Regions from separate parts of the Homo sapiens genome. Here all the other regions are linked to region 2. Evidence: fine-mapped expression QTL. A gene starts in region 2. Each other region holds a variant in brackets. All regions are shown on one strand. Distances are between the middles of the regions.

Evidence for each region. PIP is the estimated chance that this variant, and not a neighbour inherited with it, causes the effect.
Region 1: its variant is the best candidate, but not a certain one, in a credible set for the expression of DSE in whole blood (INTERVAL, PIP 0.72).
Region 3: its variant is the best candidate, but not a certain one, in a credible set for the expression of DSE in whole blood (INTERVAL, PIP 0.84).
Region 4: its variant is the best candidate, but not a certain one, in a credible set for the expression of DSE in whole blood (INTERVAL, PIP 0.74).

The regions. Positions count from the first base shown.
Region 1 is chr6:116,413,466-116,418,465 of GRCh38, forward strand. All of the region lies in intron 2 of DSE (dermatan sulfate epimerase), which reads left to right. Among named protein-coding and RNA genes, the nearest start is that of DSE, 45 kb to the left of the region's middle. The variant T/A (reference allele first, on the strand shown) is at 2,830.
Region 2 is chr6:116,368,627-116,373,812 of GRCh38, forward strand. It overlaps DSE (dermatan sulfate epimerase), which reads left to right and starts at 2,321. Exons shown (of 6, transcript NM_013352.4): 1 at 2,321-2,495. It overlaps LOC100287467 (a long non-coding RNA gene), which reads right to left and starts at 3,093. Exons shown (of 1, transcript NR_148944.1): 1 at 1-3,093. RefSeq lists enhancers at 1,128-1,177, 2,692-3,192 and silencers at 2,108-2,637, 2,400-2,694.
Region 3 is chr6:116,433,388-116,438,559 of GRCh38, forward strand. It overlaps DSE (dermatan sulfate epimerase), which reads left to right. Exons shown (of 6, transcript NM_013352.4): 5 at 1-163; 6 at 2,200-5,172. The coding sequence ends at 3,958. Among named protein-coding and RNA genes, the nearest start is that of CALHM6, 25 kb to the right of the region's middle. The variant G/A (reference allele first, on the strand shown) is at 2,117.
Region 4 is chr6:116,451,103-116,456,306 of GRCh38, forward strand. It overlaps the pseudogene CBX3P9. Among named protein-coding and RNA genes, the nearest start is that of CALHM6, 7.7 kb to the right of the region's middle. The variant G/A (reference allele first, on the strand shown) is at 2,348.

The sequences.
Region 1 (5,000 bases), 45 kb after region 2:
TAGAATGCTTATTCTCAAAATGTATTGGGAAGCATCTTTATTTCATTAAGAAACAGTACAGGCCTGTGATTAATGATTATATGTCAGGTTTCCGGGGCTGAATGGAATAAACTGTGCAGAGCATTATTTCCTACTGCACCCAGAGTAAAATCAGCCACAGTTCATTCACTGTTTTAAAAAGGCCTCTGGATTTTATGAAGCTCTGCATAATTTCAGCAAAACCTTTAAAAATCAAATTATCAAAGAAAATTATTCATAAAACATTAAAAGCAGAAATAGTGGGTAAATATATTAACCGTACTCTAAGAGACAGCAAAATATCATTTCACGTATGCTAGCTCCTCCAGGCCTACCTCACTTTGGATTTGATGTTTTCCCACCATGAGGGCAGCAAAAATTGGTGATTTGACTACGGTTTTTCCCATTGTGAAAAAGTGTCCCTCATTATTTTGAAACTTCATTCCTCAAGTAATTCTTTGCCCTTTTGCCTGCCGTGTTCTCAGAATATTAGGCAAGTGCTCTTTCAAGTAAATGGGAGTAACTGAGTGTTCAGGCAGCGACAGGAAGATGATGGGGAGTGTACGAGGTGGCAGCAATGGCCGGTCAGGTTTTTTAGTGTCGGTGTATTTGTTGCTAGGGCTGCTGTAACAAAATACCATAGACTAGGTGGCTTAAACCAACAGAAATTTATTCTCTCTCAGTTCTGGAAGCTAGAAGTCTGAAATCAAGATATCAATAGGCTTCATTCCTTCTGGAGGCTCTCTGAAGGAGAGACCATCCTAAGCTGCTCTCCTAGCTTCTGGTGGTTGTAGGCAATCTTTGGTGTTCTTGGCTTGCAAATGCATCATCTCTCTCTCACTCTGACACAGATAAGTTATTTCATTACAATATAGATCTGTTTTATTTTATAAATATGCCATAATTTTAATGAGTGGAATATCAAGTGTTTGCTCATTTTTTTTTTTAGGTGGAGTTTCGCTCTTGTTGCCCAGGATGGAGTGCAATGGCCCGATCTCAGCTCACCGCAACCTCCACCTCCTGGGTTCAAGCGATTCTCCTGCCTCAGCCTCCCTAGTAGCTGGGATTACAGGCATGTGCCACCACGCCCAGCTAATGTTGTATTTTTAGTAGAGATGGGGTTTCTGCATGTTGGTCAGGCTGGTCTCGAACTCCCGACCTCAGGTGATCCGCCTGCCTCGGCCTCCCAAAGTGCTGGGATTACAGGTGTGAGCCACCACGCCCAGCCTGTTTGCATATTTTAACAAGGCAAAAGTTATTGACAACTGAACTATATTGTATACTGTAATGACTTTTCAATGTGTGTACAACTCTTTGTTTTCTCTTGGATTCATAATAGCTTTTTGTTTTATTTGGTAAGTTTTTTATATGGTTATCTCTAGTGACCAGCCAGACTCTCACTCTTGTGTAAGTTTTCTATCTATTCAAACAAGACATTCTTAATAAGACATTTTTTAAAAATAATTCATCTTTTTGAAGAAGTAATGCTGCATCTTTTTGACATGCTAGGATGTGGATTGCTTGCAGCCAGGTCTGCTGTACAGCCATCTTTGTTCCTTTTTCTCTTGAATTGGATTCCTTGTGCCATGTCTTCTTTTTGATATACATCCTAATTTAGGTGGAGATATTTTCCACTGGCTTCCAGAGAAAGCATTTATGAGAGGTAAATTTTGAGACCTTGGATGTCTGTATATGTTTTTTCTTCCCTCAAGTTTAAAGGGTAGCTTGGCTGGATATGAAATTATAGTCTGGAAATTGTCTCTCTGAGTTTTGGAGTCATTGTTTTATTGTATACTAGTGTCTAGTGTTGCTGTTGAGATGTCTGACCCCACTATTCCTGATGCTTTGAATGAAACCTGATATTCCACTCTGAAGCATATAGGATCTTTTTTATGTTACTAGTGTTTTGAAATTACGGGATGATGTATCTTGTTTTGAGATGAGTCTGTGTACTGTGCACTTCATGGATTCTTTCAATATGGAAACTTATCCCCTTTAGTTCTAGCAATTTTCCTTGATATATTTGGATCTCCTTTTCTTCCCCCTTTTTTCTTTTTTCTTTCTTTTTTTTTTCCTCTCTTCTTTTTCACATGTTTAACCTCTTGGGCCAGTCCTCTTTTTTTTTTTTCCTCTGCTGTTTTCTATTTTATTTTCTTACTTTTTTTGCATTTTCAAGGTTTCTTCAACTTTTCTCCCCAGCCCTTTTATTGCACTTACCTTCCTGCTATTTTGTTTTCCATTTCAAGAGCTTCTTTTGTCTTGAAATTTCTTTCTGCCTGCATGGTTTAATTTCTCCCAAGCTGCATTAATGAGTTTGTTCATTTGGGTCTCTTTTGTCCTATTATGGGATTTCCACAAATCTCTGGTAGTCCTTGACTGCCTAAAAATGCATACAAATGCTGTAACAAATTACCACATACTCAGTGGCCTAAAACAGCACAGAGTGATCTTACAGTTTTGTAGAAGTGTAACACAGGGCTAAAATCAAGGTGTTAGCAGGGCTACATTTTATTCTGGAAGCTCTAGGGCAGAATACTTTTCTTTGCCTTTTTCTAGCTTTTGGAGTTCACATATATTCCTTTGCTTGTAGCTCCCTGCCTCCACCTTCAAAGCTAGCAACCTTGCATCTCTTTGATTCTTCCTCCATGGTCACATCTCTCTCCGACTACAGCCAAGAAAGGTTCTTTGCTTTTAAGGACCCGTGTGACTAGATTGGGACCACCTGGGTAATCTAGAATAATCTCCCATCACAAGGTTTTAAATCATATCTACAAAGTCCCTTTGCCCCAGTGGAAGGTAATGTATGCACAG[T/A]TTCTTGGGGGACTGTTATTTTGCCTGTCACAGGTTCTAAACAGCTAATTGCCACTGTGTGTGTGTGTGTGTGTGTGTGTGTGTGTGTGTGTGTGTGTGTGTAGCTTTTTGACTGCACTATAAGGTTGATAGTTTGATTAAATCTTTTTCATTGGGAAATACTTGGTGTTCAGAATCTTTAGATTTTTATTCTTCATTATAGACTTCTTGTCCTCCGGAGTCATGTTATATTTAAAATAGATGGTATATTTTTGATGTTGTGTGTTATAAAATTTATATTAAATTTTTATAAGATAAATAAATGTGTCAACTACATACAGTTATTATAACTGCTCAGTTCTTGCCCAAGCCAACATTTATATATTATATTTTCTTCTCTGACAGGACTGGCCACTGTCCATCATCCTGGCTATTCTTGCATGTTTATTTTTTTTTTTCTTAAAATCATACTGACTACTGACAATTGCTAACTGGCAGTTGTCTGTATGGCTTCTCACATGATCACTGGATGCTTGCATAGACATTGACTGAGTGATAACATCAAAAAGTTGTCCAGCTGAACTTTTTGAAACATATTTTACACATACAGTTGTAAAACATGTTAGGCATTTAAAATATCAAGCTCCTTTTTAAAATGGGTAAATATCATTAAATTATAATTTTCATGAACAATATAGGCAGACCTGGTTATTCCCTCCTATTGCCTTTCCAGGTTTTAAAATTTCTCCATTATAATAGATTCTTTAAGAATTTGTCATTAGAATTTGATATGTAAGTGTATTTTTAACCGTAGTCTTTAAGCTATGCCATTCTACCAAAATAGAGGTCTTGTTCCTAAATTTGAATAATTTTTACTTATCATGTTTCTTCCTCTCACCTTTTGTAGGTTGAATATTAGGGCAAAGTATACTTACTCAGTTAAAAGGGATTACAATTATAAATGTTGTTTGATTCCATTTAAATAGATTATGTTTGGGTGGCATGCTTGGATATTTGGGTAATAACACTTCATGTCATGGAAGTAAACATTGAGATAATGACATGGAAATGCCTTTTCCCATTTAACAGTACTACTCTACATTTTATTTTAATTAACTTGGTATATTCCGACACTTCGATTCTTTTTATTTACAAATCATCTAGAATACTTTTCATTTGAGTAAAATGTGTTTCTTTTAATGTCTGCTTTGGCATAATTGACTCCTCAGTATTCTGCTTGAGTGGGGCCAAGTTGACTTAAATTTTATATATTTTAGAATTTAATATTTGGGATATTGAATTCACAGCATTAAAATGAAATTAAGTGGTAATGTACTGCTATATTAAATCCAGTGATTTAATTAATATAGAAATATAGATTGTAAGAGGAAATAGTTTTTTACATTTCAGAGCTAATAAGTTATTTTCCCTGAAAAAGTCTTAATATACAATGAGTTCCCATTCTGTCATACCGTTCATCCTTCTAGCAATTGTTTCCAGAAAGGGCAAGTAGTTTTGTTCCCAAAGTAGATATTGAAAAAGGAAAGCTCATTGTCCATTTCTGTGTACTCTAGCCCTGGCCAGTGTCAAAGGTAAACAATACCGGACACTAAAGTGGCAAGGATAAGTTTTAATCAGTAGTAAGTATTTCAGTAGGAAAAGAGTTCAGCATAAACTGAACTGAACGTCAATTTGTACAGAGGTGAATAGGCATTTTAAAGGGAGGAGGGCAAGCAGGGGCTTAGTAGAGCCAGGAAAGAGAAAAATTACAAAGGGTAGTCAATGTACATGTGATTAGGCCAGCTAATCACACATCTGCTAAGTGGCAATTATCGAGGGTAGAATTCTATCCTCCCACAGAGACTGAAAGACAGAGACCCTATCCTCAAATGTTGACAGGAACAAACAAAATTTTTCTGGAAGCCTTGAGTTTCTTAGGCAGACACTTTCAACAGGGAGAGGGTCATCTCAGGGATATGACCTTGAGGTATTGGAAACTTGTTAGTGTTTACTCTTCATGGAATGAGGTTGAGGCCTAGCCAAGAAGGCACAGAGGAGCCTGGCTAGGGTTTGATCACGAAGAGAGTGTTTGTTACTACCTTAAGGGGCCCAAGGTTCTGAAGATGCAAACCAGAACCACCATCCCCTGGACCAACTCTACCTTAGAGTAGTACATTAGGTGTGCAGGCTCA
Region 2 (5,186 bases):
CATGGAAGCTCCAAGGATATACTTAGGGAAATACAGTAATTACAACAAAGCCATTAAACATCTTTCTAGTTTGTCACTTGGGTGAAACCTTGAATTCAATTCTTGGCATCAGGGTTTGAGAGAGATGTTGGCAAAGTAAATCTCCTCCTGAGAGCTTTCCTAATGGATGAAGAAAAGCTGATGGAGTTAATATGTACCCAGGTAAATTGAAGTATTCTCCTGTGGAATCAAGGCTAGGTGTATCCTGTAGATTCCAGAGAGCAGAATAGCAGATCTGTTGAGACTTACTGTAATGGGGTGGGCGGGGGCGGGGGGACGGGGGGGGCTTTGCACAAAGTGAATGTCATCCAGAGGCCAATTCGCAGGTCACTCAAAAGCAAAATTGTGGGGGGTGTGAGGGTAAAGGGGAGCAAATGACAGTCAGTACTACCTCCTTTGAAGAATTCTCAATCCTGGTTGTACATTGTGATCATCTAGGAAGAGATTTTAAAATGCAGATGCTGATGCTTAGACCCTAACCTCAGAGATTCTGATTTGTTGTTCTTGCGTGGGGGTCCCCATTGGAAAGAATTTATTATAGCTCCCCTGCTGATTCTAAAGTTCTAGGTTGGAGAATCACTGAACTAGACTACTACTTGCTGAGAGGTTACGTAAATTAAACCAGATGTTTTTTCTAAAGTCTCTTTCAAATTTGAGAAGATAAATGGAAATTAACACTTACGGATTACATAATACAGCTAGACACTTTCACAATTTATTCTAATAATTGAATTAGTATATGTAAATCTCTTAGCACAGTGACCGTCTGATATGGTGTAGTAAACTCTCAATAAACATTAGCTATTTTTATTATATCCTCTCCATAACTGTTCAAACAAGGTATTATATTGTTACACTATAGATGAGGAAACTGAGGTTCTGATGTTAGTTTTCCAAGGCCCACAGTAGTAAAAGCAAAGTTTGGATTTGAACCAAAGATTAGTTCCAGTTTCCAGAGCCCTCTTCTCTCCTCGACAGGCCTTCCCTAAAGCATCAAGAAGTTTATGCAAATTAGTGGTTCACCTGAGTGAACATTTAAAAAATTTAATAGTACCACTTCCTCTTGACCTGTTTGTAAGGAGTTCCTCTTAAATGCAATTTCTGAAAAAGAGAAGCATAAACTGAGACATCCACATTTTTTCCTTATTTGGCCAAATAGAAGTGAGAACCTCTGAGGATAGAGGAATTGGATGGAGGTGCCCTTCAGAACTCATGGAGAAAAGCACTGCTCCCAGTAAAATATCTCTCATTCTAATGAATGGGTAAGTATCCTACAAATCTTTCACTTCTGTACAATCTAGGTCTGGTAGGTTACTTGCACACACTGGGTGGAGGTGGAAGGGGCAAAGTATTCCTGAGGTGATGGCCCTGATCCTACCTCACATCTCCTTGGGGCCTGGTTGGACCTGGCTGAGCGTGTTTGAGCAGTGGCTGATTTTTGGAAAACAGGAGGACTCTTCTCCAGGAGGCTGTGACTACCAAGGTTGCAAATGCTCCACCTGAACTTGGGTGCATGAGGGATCTCTCTCTCTCACACACACACACCCCCCCACCGCGTAAGATAAATTTCTGTTTGTGAGCTGCCTACATTAAATGCTTTGCTCCTGACCTTCTGTGATTAAAATCTGTTCCGTTTGCAGGGTTCGGTGCGCTTGGATTTAGTGTATTTTGTTGGTACAGTAAAAAAGAGAACTGCTTCTCTATAGGTGACCCCCGCCCCAAAGTCCCCCCTCCCACTAACTTCTCTTTGAGAAGAGAGTAAAACCGAATTCGAGAGAAAAGAGGCAGTAACTATTCGGGAGGAGGCAGACTGGAGTGGGCACCAGTCCCGGTAGTAAGAGTCTTAACGTCTTCCTCGCTTTCCTCTCGCAGAGTAGTATGGAAGCATCAGCTCCTCCCCCTGGGCCTCCAAAAGTTACCTTTCCTTTGGGTGTGATTCTCGAACCCGAAGCGTTTGAGTCCTAAGAAACTAGAACAAGTTAGAGCCAAAGAGGCCTGGCGGGCGGGGGTGCGGGTGGAGTCCGGGCCGGGTGGCGTGGAAGGCCGAGCACAGCTGCGAGCGGCGAGTCCCGGGAGAGGAGGAGCGGGAGAAAGCGGGGCGGGCCTGCGGTCGGGGTTCGGCCGGGGGAGGGGGTCCCCGTTTCCCTCTCCTCATCCTCGTCTCCTCTGGCTCTGGTGACGTTGCGGTTTCCTCCCCCCTCCAGCGGAGCCTCAGCGCCCGCCGCGTCCCTCCCTCCGCCCCTTTCGCCCACACCTACCCGCCCCCGCCGGCCCGGCTCTCAGTAGCGTCGCCCGAGGCTGCAGCAGCGCATCCCGGGGCATGGCGCGGCGGGGGCGCGGAGGGCTCGGTTCGGAGGGGGCCGGGAGCCCGGGCGCCCTGGAGTGAGGAGGACCGGGAGCTGGCTCTGGAGGCTGCGGAGGCGACGCCGGAGAGAACGAAGCCTCGGCTGGGAGCGGTAAGTGGAGGGGCGCGCAAGGGACGAGCTGGGGCGCGCGGCGCAACTTTCTTCGGGAGTTTCGGGCGGGTAGCCTTCGGGGCTGTCCCGGCGCGGGCGGGAGACGGAGAGCCACGTCCCCGGCTGAGAGCGGAGCGCCGCGGGTTGCGCGCCCGGGCCCGGCTCGGCTGGACTCCGAGAGAGCGCCTGACGCGTGAAGCCTGAGCCACGGGCTTCCCCGGCGGCGGAGCAGCCTCGAGGGGCAGCTTTTCGATCCTCCCCACCCCCTTGAACGCCGAGCACCGAGCCGGGAACACGATGAGAACCTGGAGATCGCATTCCGTGCGTCGGATCTGGCCGGCCCAGCCGCGATTTCCTCGACGGTCCTTGGGGCCTCGGCTTCACTCTGCGGGGTTGGGTGGCACACCCTCGCGTCCTCCTTTCCCTCCGTACCCCAGCCATTTGGGGGCAGGGGAGGTGGCGGCGGCTTGTGTGCAGATCCTGGCGCTGGCAACCCTACTTTGCGGCTGCAGAAGCCGAGGAAGAGCTCCCCAAGCCTCTCCCAGACGCTGGATTCCAGCGCTCCTGGGCTCCGCCGGCACTCGGAGAAATTGTTAGTAAACCTCATCCCCGAGGCAGTCCCGGGGAGGGGAGGAGGCGGGGGCTTGACTCACAGACTGGGAAGCTCTGAAAGCGATGCCACATGGGCTCAAGATCTGTCGGGGCTGGAATCTGAGCTAAGTTTGTGACCTGAGAACTTTTTCGTTTATATCGCTCCTTTAAAGCAGCAGCCTCCTCTTAAGCCGGCTGGCATTCAGATGGAAACCGAAGCCTTTGGTTAAAATCAGGAGGTGAACCTCACTTACCTGAAATTCTTTAGGTCAGGCAATGACGCTTTTAGTTCTAGGAATCTTCGTGTAATAAAGTTCTTTTTAAAAATTTTTTCGTTGGTCATGGTTTAGAAAGTCATGGTTTAGCACTGTTAATTAAATGCATGAAAGATCTCACTTATACATATTTTTAGTATTTTTCACATTATAGAATTTAAACTTTAAGTAATTCCCTCAAGTTTTTAAAAAATTTCTCGGCCGGACGCAGTGGCTCACGCCTGTAATCCCAGTACTTTGGGAGGCCGAGGCAGGCGGATCACGAGGTCAGGAGATCGAGACCATCCTGGCTAACACGGTGAAACCCCGTCTCTACTAAAAATACAAAAAATTAGCCGGGCGTGGTGGCGGGCGCCTGTAGTCCCAGCTACTCGGGAGGCTGAGGCAGGAGAATGGCGTGAACCCAGGAGGCGGAGCTTGCAGTGAGCCGAGATTGCGCCACTGCTCTCCAGCCTGGGCGACAGGCTCAAAACAAAACAAAACAAAATTCTCAATGATAATCTCTATGTGAAATAGTGATAAACAATATTGTATAGAGTATTCTAACTATATTACTAAATGGGATCACAAAAAACCTAATGTGCATGGAAGAAAATAAAATATAGGATTATCTGAGTATTTGTTTCATGCAAATACTTAGATTTCTGTATTGTGACCTCTTCCTTTGACGGTCACGATACAGATATAAGTTCTTTTCTGAAGTATGTAGGTAAGGTCTGTTCTAGTAAAAATGGAGAAGATAACAGATTGAATTTGATGTCTCCATCACCTAGTGACCCGTCTGTGTGGGTTCAGCAAAAAGTGCAAGATAGTGCTGGTTACCTAGGTTACATACACAGGTATATGAGATCAGCCTTAGCTCTCTTGGAGCTGCTAATGTAGAACCTGAGAAACATCAATAAGCAGCACTTCCTAAGTTTGAGCTTGGGAAGAGTTATTTTTCATTGACTAGTATATGACGTCAGTATCCGTTTTTATGAAGTTTTAGTTAAATAAAAACACTGGCCTAAAAAGTACATTCTGACAGTTTAAAAAATACTGAAAGTACAGTCACCAAGTGAAGGGGAATTAAAAAAAAAAAAAAGGGCTGGGTGCGGTGGCTCACGCCTGTAATCCCAGCACTTTGGTAGGCCGAGGCAGGTGGATCACCAGGTCAAGAGTTCGAGACCAGCCTGGCCAATATGGTGAAACCCGGTCTCTACTAAAAATACAAAACAAAAAATAAATTAGCTGGGCGTGGTGTCGCGCGCCTGTAGTCCCAGCTACTTGGGAGGCTGCGGCAGAAGAATCTTTTGAACCCAGGAAGCGGAGGTTGCAGTGAGCCGAGATTGTGCCACTGCACTCCAGCCTGAGCGACAGAAGAAGACTCCATCTGAAAAGAAACTTTGACCAAGAGATACTTTGATAACAGTACAGGCAGTTGCCATGATGGGGTTATTAGGTTCCATTCTCAATACTGCTAGATTGAGGCTGTCCTTCCTGATCTTGGGGACCTGTTGAAAAAGCACTGGGTGAGACATCAACTAGGTTTGCTATGTGAGATCAGGACCATCTTAGTGACTAATGTTTGTGTGTACATCTGCTTTAGTATTTACGAAATTCGTTCAGAAACAAGCTAATACAGTTCCTTTCAATGAGATTTTATGGGCTGTCCGGTTCAATATCTCGCAGTGCTGCCCTGAGAGGACCTGGTGGTCATCCATGAGATGAAGCTCTTAACTTCGCAGATGCTTCCCAGTGCCTCGTTATAGTCTCTTTTTAATTTCTGAAAAGGTGCTTTAAGATCACTGATGAAAGTGCATTTTGCGATTAAACAATAAAATAT
Region 3 (5,172 bases), 65 kb after region 2:
TTTATGGTCCAGAAAGCCAATTAGTGTTCCTTGATAAATTTGTCATGCGTAATGGCAGTGGTAACTGGCTAGCTGACCAAATCAGAAGGAACCGTGTGGTGGAAGGTCCAGGAACACCATCCAAAGGGCAGCGCTGGTGCACTCTGCACACAGAATTTCTCTGGTATGACACATTGGGCTAGCTTTAAAGAGAAATGGTACCCAAGGGTACTATTCATGCTATGCACTTGTTTTTTTGCATTTAAAAAGAAAAACTAAAACACTTTTTAAATCTTTTCTCCATGCCACCTGAGTATATGAAGTTTCAATTCAACTCATATCACTGTTTTTGAAACTCTTAGAAACTTTTCTTTTTTAAAAAAAAATTTCAACTTTTAGATACAGGGGTACATGTGCAGTATACCCAGGTAGTGAGCATAGTACCTAATAGGTAGTGTTAGAAACATTTCTTTATGTTTAACATCTAATTACTGTTTTCAGTTTTTGGTTCTCATATTAGAGCTGTCCTACACTTGCACTATTTCATAAATAAGCATGTTTTGATTTTACATCATTTTTTGAAAGCATATAAAACAAAACACAAAATTTAGACTAGGTTATTCTGATAATCACACCAAAAAAAAGGTAGTAAAATATTTTGTTTTGGTAAATGGAGCATTATAATCTTCTAATAGCAAAGCTGTTACTAAATTTTCAAAAGTGTTTAAAAGTGTTTGACAGTATTTGACAGCTTCACTTTGATAATAAAAGGACCGTATAAATTTTTTTGCCTTAATCTTTTAAGCCCAGAAAGAGAAGCTTGGGTCTCCTTTTTAAAGTATTGCCAAATATGTTGTTGGCATCCAATAAGTTAAAATCAAAATTACAGGGAACTGATTAATCATTAATCCCTGATGTCTTTTCAAGCTGTTGAAATTTGCATTCAACTCCAAAACAAGCTTTCTTGTGGTTTGCTTCTCTTTATCCTTTTTTTTCAAAATACAAAAAAATTAAGGAGGAAAAAATATTAGTAAAATGGTGTCTATAGTTTAACCAACAATTTAAGATTATTTTCATAGATAAACTAAACATATTAAGATGCAACCATCCTTGAGTTCTCTCAGGAGTATGACATAATTACTTAATAGTGTAACCCATAAATAAGTTACTCATAAATATTCAATGAAGAGAGTTCTATAAAGCTAACTACAGGATTAATAGGTCAGATTAATGCTAAGTCTAACTTAAAAATCTGCCTTTATAGCAATATGCAAACTGACCAAAAACTGAGAGTAAGATGGCCAATTCAGCTTACATCTACACTTTTTAAATCACATTAATTAAGCCAACATTATACTAGACCTAAGTAGAGATATAATTTCTGATGTCTTGAAACTGAGACTCTAGAACAACAGATGAAACAGTCAATATCAAACACCAATAAGATTAACTCTAGGTGATTGATTTACTTTAGGGAAAAGTACATAGTGCTAATAATAAACATTTATCATAAATGAAAATAAGAAGTCATTTATTGTCCAAGAAGCATGGCATCATCTGCAGATTAAAACAAAACCAAACCTTTGGACCTGGCTGGTCAGTAGTAGGCACAATTATAAATCCCTCAATATAAGACAGTTTGCTGAAACTTCATCCATTTATATTCTGAGATGTGGTGTTGGTGATACATTTTATCTAATATGTGAAGTTCTCCTCTATTTCAGTTTATTTTTTCAAGGAAAAAAATCTTGAGGGAGAACTCTTTTCAATACCAAACATTCAATAATATCAGTTACTGCAGAACTATACTTTATTACAACTCAAGGCTTGTTAGAGTCCAGATTCTAACATGGCATTTCTAGAAGAGGAGCCCCTCAACCAGAAATTTGGATGAAGTGCTTAAATCCATGAGGCCCAGTAGTTTGAATGGTCACTCTGACATCATCAAGTGAAGATAGTCCATGTAGAGATTAGAGCAGAAATCATTTCGGGCCCAAACCCAAGGATCACAAATGATAAAGAAATATTCCTCTTCCAGTCACCAAGGGTTTCCCTTTGTGCATACTGGTTGTCCTTGGATATTTTTAGAATTGTCCCTAATATACTCTGCACTGCCAGTGCTCTGGGTAGCATTTGT[G/A]TGTCGCATCTTCCACATTACCATGTTATGTGTTATTTTCACTGCCATCAGAAAACCATTTAATTTTTCAAAATTAATTTCAGGTATGATGGCAGCTTGAAATCGGTTCCTCCTCCAGACTTTGGCACCCCTACACTGCATTATTTTGAAGACTGGGGTGTCGTGACTTATGGAAGTGCACTACCTGCAGAAATCAATAGATCTTTCCTTTCCTTCAAGTCTGGAAAACTGGGGGGACGTGCAATATATGACATTGTCCACAGAAACAAATACAAAGATTGGATCAAAGGATGGAGAAATTTTAATGCAGGGCATGAACATCCTGATCAAAACTCATTTACTTTTGCTCCCAATGGTGTGCCTTTCATTACTGAGGCTCTGTACGGGCCAAAGTACACCTTCTTCAACAATGTTTTGATGTTTTCCCCAGCTGTGTCAAAGAGCTGCTTTTCTCCCTGGGTGGGTCAGGTCACAGAAGACTGCTCATCAAAATGGTCTAAATACAAGCATGACCTGGCAGCTAGTTGTCAGGGGAGGGTGGTTGCAGCAGAGGAGAAAAATGGGGTGGTTTTCATCCGAGGAGAAGGTGTGGGAGCTTATAACCCCCAGCTCAACCTGAAGAATGTTCAGAGGAATCTCATCCTCCTACATCCACAGCTGCTTCTCCTTGTAGACCAAATACACCTGGGAGAGGAGAGTCCCTTGGAGACAGCAGCGAGCTTCTTCCATAATGTGGATGTTCCTTTTGAGGAGACTGTGGTAGATGGTGTCCATGGGGCTTTCATCAGGCAGAGAGATGGTCTCTATAAAATGTACTGGATGGACGATACTGGCTACAGCGAGAAAGCAACCTTTGCCTCAGTGACATATCCTCGGGGCTATCCCTACAATGGGACAAACTATGTGAATGTCACCATGCACCTCCGAAGTCCCATCACCAGGGCAGCTTACCTCTTCATAGGGCCATCTATAGATGTTCAGAGCTTCACTGTCCACGGAGACTCTCAGCAACTGGATGTGTTCATAGCCACCAGCAAACATGCCTACGCCACATACCTGTGGACAGGTGAGGCCACAGGACAGTCTGCCTTTGCACAGGTCATTGCTGATCGTCACAAAATTCTGTTTGACCGGAATTCAGCCATCAAGAGCAGCATTGTCCCTGAGGTGAAGGACTATGCTGCTATTGTGGAACAGAACTTGCAGCATTTTAAACCAGTGTTTCAGCTGCTGGAGAAGCAGATACTGTCCCGAGTCCGGAACACAGCTAGCTTTAGGAAGACTGCTGAACGCCTGCTGAGATTTTCAGATAAGAGACAGACTGAGGAGGCCATTGACAGGATTTTTGCCATATCACAGCAACAGCAGCAGCAAAGCAAGTCAAAGAAAAACCGAAGGGCAGGCAAACGCTATAAATTTGTGGATGCTGTCCCTGATATTTTTGCACAGATTGAAGTCAATGAGAAAAAGATTAGACAGAAAGCTCAGATTTTGGCACAGAAAGAACTACCCATAGATGAAGATGAAGAAATGAAAGACCTTTTAGATTTTGCAGATGTAACATACGAGAAACATAAAAATGGGGGCTTGATTAAAGGCCGGTTTGGACAGGCACGGATGGTGACAACTACACACAGCAGGGCCCCATCACTGTCTGCTTCCTATACCAGGTTGTTCCTGATTCTGAACATTGCTATTTTCTTTGTCATGTTGGCAATGCAACTGACTTATTTCCAGAGGGCCCAGAGCCTACATGGCCAAAGATGTCTTTATGCAGTTCTTCTCATAGATAGCTGTATTTTATTATGGTTGTACTCTTCTTGTTCCCAATCACAGTGTTAGCACTGAAGCTATAAATTACCTGGTCATTTTGTGATCACAAGAGTCTATGCAAAAAAAAAAATTTCTTTACCCCAGATTATCAGATTTTTTTCCCTCAGATTCATTTTAACAAATTAAGGGAAGATATTTTGACACAAGAAAGCAGGAACGTGGAGAAATTGGAGCAGGAAAAGAAATTATCAAAGCAATAGAAATAGCTTGGTGGTCCTATGGTGTTTTTGGAAGTATTTGGCATTGCTAATTGAGCAGTCCATATAGTACTACTTTTAGAAGAAACAAAAAGTCTATTTTTTAAAGTAATGTTTTTTCTTATGAGAAAAAGGTTTAGATAGAATTGGGTTTTATTAATATTAATTTAATGCTATTAGCAATTTCCATATACTATATTGTGGAAAAGACTGAAGAATACAATTCTGAGAAATATAAAAAAATTTTAATGGTATACTCATGTTGAAAGATAAATGTTGCTAAGTCCTGGTATGATGGTGTGAGCTTCCTTGGGGAAGTACTTCTTGAGTTATGTAACTAACAGGATGTTTTACTACAGATCTGGATGGCTATTCAGATAACATGGCAAAAAATGATAGCAGAAGATCATTAAAAACTTAAAATATATTTTATTAGAAAACATTTATCTATGAATGAATATTTCCTTGATGCTGGTCTCTGCACACATATGCTTGGTTACTTGCATGCATTCATTGGTTGTTCAATAAGTGAGATGATTACAGATAATACTGTATTTTCCTTATATGGAAAACCGTTATAGACCCAATAACAACTAAACCTTTCAAAAGAAAATATTTTCTATTATGAATGTTGATTTTCATACCAAAGAAGATGGAGAGTCTAAAATTTGGATATGATTCTTATGTTTTTTTAATAGAAAACCTTCTTCAAGTTTATTTTCCTAAATAAACATCATAATTGTGAATTTTCTCTAGTATTCTTCTTCTTTGTTCCATTATATTCAAAATGCATTAACATTTTCCAAAATTTTTGAAGAGAGATCTTTATTTGGACGTGTATTCATTAAATATATAAAGTAGTGTTTGAATCAAAAGAAGTATTTTCTCTGCTTATTAACCTTAATTGTTGTTTAAGCATATTTTAAATATTTAAAACAATAGCCAATTCTGATATTTAAGTAGCACCCAACTTTTAAAAGCATAAAATTTTCAATCAACTCCTCAGAAGGTAACAGCAGCATAGAA
Region 4 (5,204 bases), 82 kb after region 2:
CGTTATTCTGAGCTGTGTGATGTGCTCAGACCGGCATGGCCTGTGCAGAAGGGCTCACATTCTAAGCTGAATAAAATAGGAATGGTGCTGGCTCTGCAGTAGGAGAAGAGAAAATCTAAGCCTGCTTCTCATTCATTCATTCATCGATTCACTCACTGTTCCCACAAATATGTACTGAACACCTACAAAGTCCTAGGCACTATGCCAAGACCTGTGTAACTGAAAGAGGATTAAGTCAGGTGTTATCCATGCCCTCTTGGAATGTATAATCTAGTGGAGGAGACGAACAAAAATTAACAAGCAACAAATGAAAGATAAAACTCCTACATGTAATAAGGAAAAAATGCAGCTAAGAAAGGTGAAGGGGTGGATGGGGAACTGTTTAGAAAGACTGGTCATAGAAGATGTGGTGGAGACTTCCTGTACTCGTCCATGTCAGGTTCTCTGCCTTTAAGGCATGGGAAAGAACCATACTTCCTCTTTCCATTGCAGTTCGGTGAAACCTTGTGGCTAGTTCTGAACAGATATTGGTATTTGAAGCAGGGTGCTTTATTAATTTAAAAACCCTAAAATATGTGGCATGGGCTTCGCAGTTCAGTGGTGGACAGCATAGAAATTGATAATGGAGGCTAGATAGATGACAATTCTTGTTATGTGGTGGTTGGTAAAGCCAACTTCTGTATTAACTTGGAGGAAGATTATGTAGCTAAAGAAAATAAGACTCTAAGGGAAAGGATTGGAAAATAATGTGTCTACTGTGTGTTAGCAACTACTATTTTTTTAAAGGAATATAAAATTATTTATTAACCACTGTTCACCAGTATTTACAATAAAGTAAACAATATACAGTTGAATAACATTCTGATTACTACAAAGTTGTTCTTCCTGGCTTTTGCTGAACCAGTAAAGCAAAGTGAAGATTGAGCCTACATGTAAGGAATGAGTTGGGGTAAAGAAAAAACATGCAGGTCAATAGGTTAGATTACAAAAGGTTGTTCACACATTTGTAGCAGCAGGTCCTAAACTGCCAACATCTCTAACCATCTGATCAGGTTTCTATGAGCCAAGTCTTACATATTCCATTCATCATTACCTTTTAGTCAATGTAGTAACAGGGATTTCAACATTTTGTTAGGGAATGGCACACTAGGGAAATTTTTTAATGTTCATTTAATTTAGTTTTGTTTAGCTAGTTAAAACACACTAGCATTTGTCTAGTTTCCTCATCTGGATGAGGAAAACTGCTGTGATGGCAGTGATAAAATTTTTCCTTTTAGGAATTTTGCAAATAAACCACTGCAATTATAGATGATTTAAAATTATCCAATTTAAATTGTCCTATTTAGAATTACTTATTTCACTTGAAATGCATGGCTTCAGGAAAATTTTCAATTTAACTTGAAGTGATTATCTCTTATTTTGCTCGGAATAATGGCATCTCAGAAACATGGGCTTACCTGTGATTTTTTTGTTTGTGTGAATGCTCAAAAACAAACAAACAAAAAATTCACATATGCATTTTATGGATACACACACAAAAAAAAAACATGTAAAAAATCTAGAATGGTCCTTAGGCTTATGAGAACACAAGTTTTGATTGAGTAATGACTACGGACATTTCCCCCAACATTTAGAGAAGCTGTTCTTTAATGAAGAGGAAATAATATACCATGGTATCAAATGTTCTTTTCTGATAGAGGAAGCAACTATAGAAAGCTTTTGTTTGTTCAAAGTAACCAGTGCTATGGATTCAAAAAACCCCCCAGCAACTCTTCCAACGCTACTTTCAAAATGAACATATCAAACTTGATTTTCATTAGGATGTAGTTATTTCATCACACTAGTAAATCAAAATCCAAGACCCAAATTTTATATATATTATAAATATATATAAAAAAACAATGTGAACAATTATTGAGCTTCATCTTCTGGACAAGAATGCCAAGTTAGTCTCTCTTCATAAAAAGCAATTACAATTTGAGGACACTTCATACTTGCTTCTTTTGCCAGCACCAAGTCTGCCTCATCTGAATCTTTCCATTTCATGAGAAACATCAATTCTCCACTGCTGTCTGTGGCACCAATTATTCTTTCAGGATCAAGACCTCTGGCAAATCCTCTTGGTTTGTCAGCAGCATCTGTTTTCTTCTTTGATTTGCTGTCATCAGATTCACTGTCAGATAAAGATTTTCTTTTTTACCATCTTTTTGTTTGCCAGCTTTCTGAGAGCTAAGAAATGCTTCAATCAATTCTGGACAATCTAAATTTTCTTCAGGTTCCCAAGTATTGTCAGCATCTGTAAATCCCTTCCACTTCAGGAAATATTCCACTTTCCCATTCACTACAC[G/A]TCAATCTAGTACTTTTTCCACCACAAATTCTTCAGGCTCTGCCTCTTCAACTTTTTACTTTTCCCATTCTGTTTTTTTTCCCCATTTTTCACAATGTAGTTTTATTGGAGGCCATTTTTTATAGCAGACTTGATGAGATATTATTCACCGCCTCCGAACTGCTCCGGGTCGCAGGTCTGCAGCATCTCTGGCCCTGCGCGCCTACCACTACTAGCTATTTTTTTTTTTTTGACAAGGCTTTTTTAACTCAAGAAAAGAATTGGTTGCTTTGTTAACAAATATGAGAAGGAATGGAACTATTTCAGAAAATTGGGGCCTTGCAAAATTGCAAATTCTAACAGGTTTTAAACTCCAAATACTAAGTCAGAAATTGAGAAAGCCTTGAAAGATGAAGCCCATTAAAATAACCTGTGGATAGGTAAAATTAAAAGTATGTTGTCTCTACCTATGATAATGCCTTTCAATAGATTAAGGAATTTCAGGGCAGATAAAATTAAGGTATTCAATTGGATAAATACACACGGCAAAGATCAAATTAAAGTTGTGGCTTTTCCACAGAAAATCATAGACTCATGTATATGCAGGATACCAGTAATGGCAAGAGAGAGATAAAGATAGAGAGACATGAAGAGCTAGATAGAGAGGGAGGAAGAGACAGAGGAAGGTAGGATAGATAGGAGGACCAGGGAAAGAGGGACAGAGAGACAGAGAGGGAGAGAGAGAGAGACACGGAGGATGGGGCAAGAAAGCAAAATGATAGAGTATATCTGAGAACCATGTCTTGGAAAGAATGGTGGATATTGGCAAATACTGTTTACTGGAATCAAAGAAATAAGAAGCTTACTAAATTACCACTTGGCAAAAGCCATAAAAGTTCCTACCTTGAGTATACAGAAATGTTCCTTGATTTTCAGGATTCCACTCTCTGGAGGGTCTTCTGTTATCTTCCTTTGCCATGTACTAATGGGCATATATTCGTCTTGGGGACTGTGTAATTCTCTTAGTGCGTGTCCTTCTTATGTAATGTCAGAAGACCATAGGTCTACTTGGGCTTGTGATTCCTTTGACTGTAAATCTCTCCCAAATTTTAGTAAGCTTCTTATCTCTTTGATTCCAGCAAGCTGTATTTGTCAATAGCCACAGTTCTGAGCTATATTTGTCAATAGCCACAGTTCTTTTCAATACATGATTCCATTCTTCTGCTTTCTTGAAAAGTAAATTTTCTGTTGTATACAAATGGATTGCATGAAATGTTCTTGCTTATTTTCCAATTAGTATGTCTTCCATGTCTTTTCATCCATACCAGCACATACAGATCTACCTCAATGGTATGGATCTACTTTGTATTCTATGCACCAATACTACATAACTTATTTAAATAGTACTCTACAACTTGACACTGTAGCAAGTTTCAAGTGATGCATTCTTTTTGGGAAGATCTTCCATGACAGTTTATGCTCTCCACAGAGTTCATTTAAATTTCTGAGATTTTATAATAGTGTCATCTATAATTTGAAGAACTCAAAATTTTGTTTTATTGTTATTTTTATTTTCTTCATTCTTATTCTTTAATCTTGTTATTTATTATTGTTTTCTTTGGAAATTCATATCTTTGATCATATATCATAAATTAGTAAAGGAAATTTGAGTTCAGGAGAACTGGGATTGTGACGATAAGTGCCCATTGACAACAAAGCTCCATCACACATTATCACACATTGTGCTCTGCAGCTCTCATAAGAATGCAGACTAATGACATGACCCTGCTTGGAATGTGACTGCTAGATTCTAATACAGCATTAATCTTGGCCCCAAGACCCTCCAAAGAGAGTAAAATCAAGTTAAGATTCAAATATCTTAGGTATCACGTGCAAGATGCAATGCTGGATGCCAAAATTAACAAGTTAATTTACAAAATCTGACACTCCTAATCCCAAAGGGAGTATATTTCTGAATGTTAAAATTTGTGGATATATTCCGGATGTATATTGTGGATATATAAATTTGTAGCTACATATTGTGGCTCTCTCTCTCTTTCTATGTCTGTCTCTCTGTCTCTCTCTCCAACTCTCTCTCTCACCTCTGAAATAACAATTTGATTTGATGGGTGCTATGGTCTAATGTTGGTGTCCCCACAAAAATCCTATGTTGGAACTTAGTATTCAATACAATAGTATTAAGAGGTGAGGCCTGTTGAGAGGTGATTAAATCATGAGGGCTTCACTCTTGTGAATGGGATTAGTGCCCTTATAAAAGAGGTTGAAGGGAGGTGCCTTGTCTCTTCCACCATGTGAAGACACAGGAAAGTTGCCATCTATGAGGAATAGGCTCTTAGCAGACACCAAATCTGCTAGCATCTTGATCTTGGACTTCTCAGCCTTCAGTACTGTGAGAAATAATTTTTTGTTTATAAATTACCTAGTCTAAGGTATTTTGTTATAGCAGACTGAAAGACTAAGACAATGAGAAAACATTGTTTCACCAAAACTGCTAATAGACATAGGTCGTAAAAAGCACAGAAGGAAAACTAACTAGGACCTTTAATAGCCTCAGTGTATCAGATGATATTGATGATGGCGGTGACAACAACAATGGTAGCAACGATGATGTCAACAAAGACTTGGCCATATCTAGTTTCTCTAAGTTGTTAAATCAAATTTATCCTAAAGCAGCCTCCTTACGTATCTTAAGTTCAGCCTAAAGGTTTCTCTGTAATGTAAGCAGACTGTAACCTACTGTTGTGCCAGTCAACAAGTTTTGGCCAATCAAAGGGGGTCAACTGTTCAAACTGTGTTCAAAGAAGGTAAATGCCAAGCTGTAACCAATCAGGCTGTTTCTATACCTCACTTCCATTTT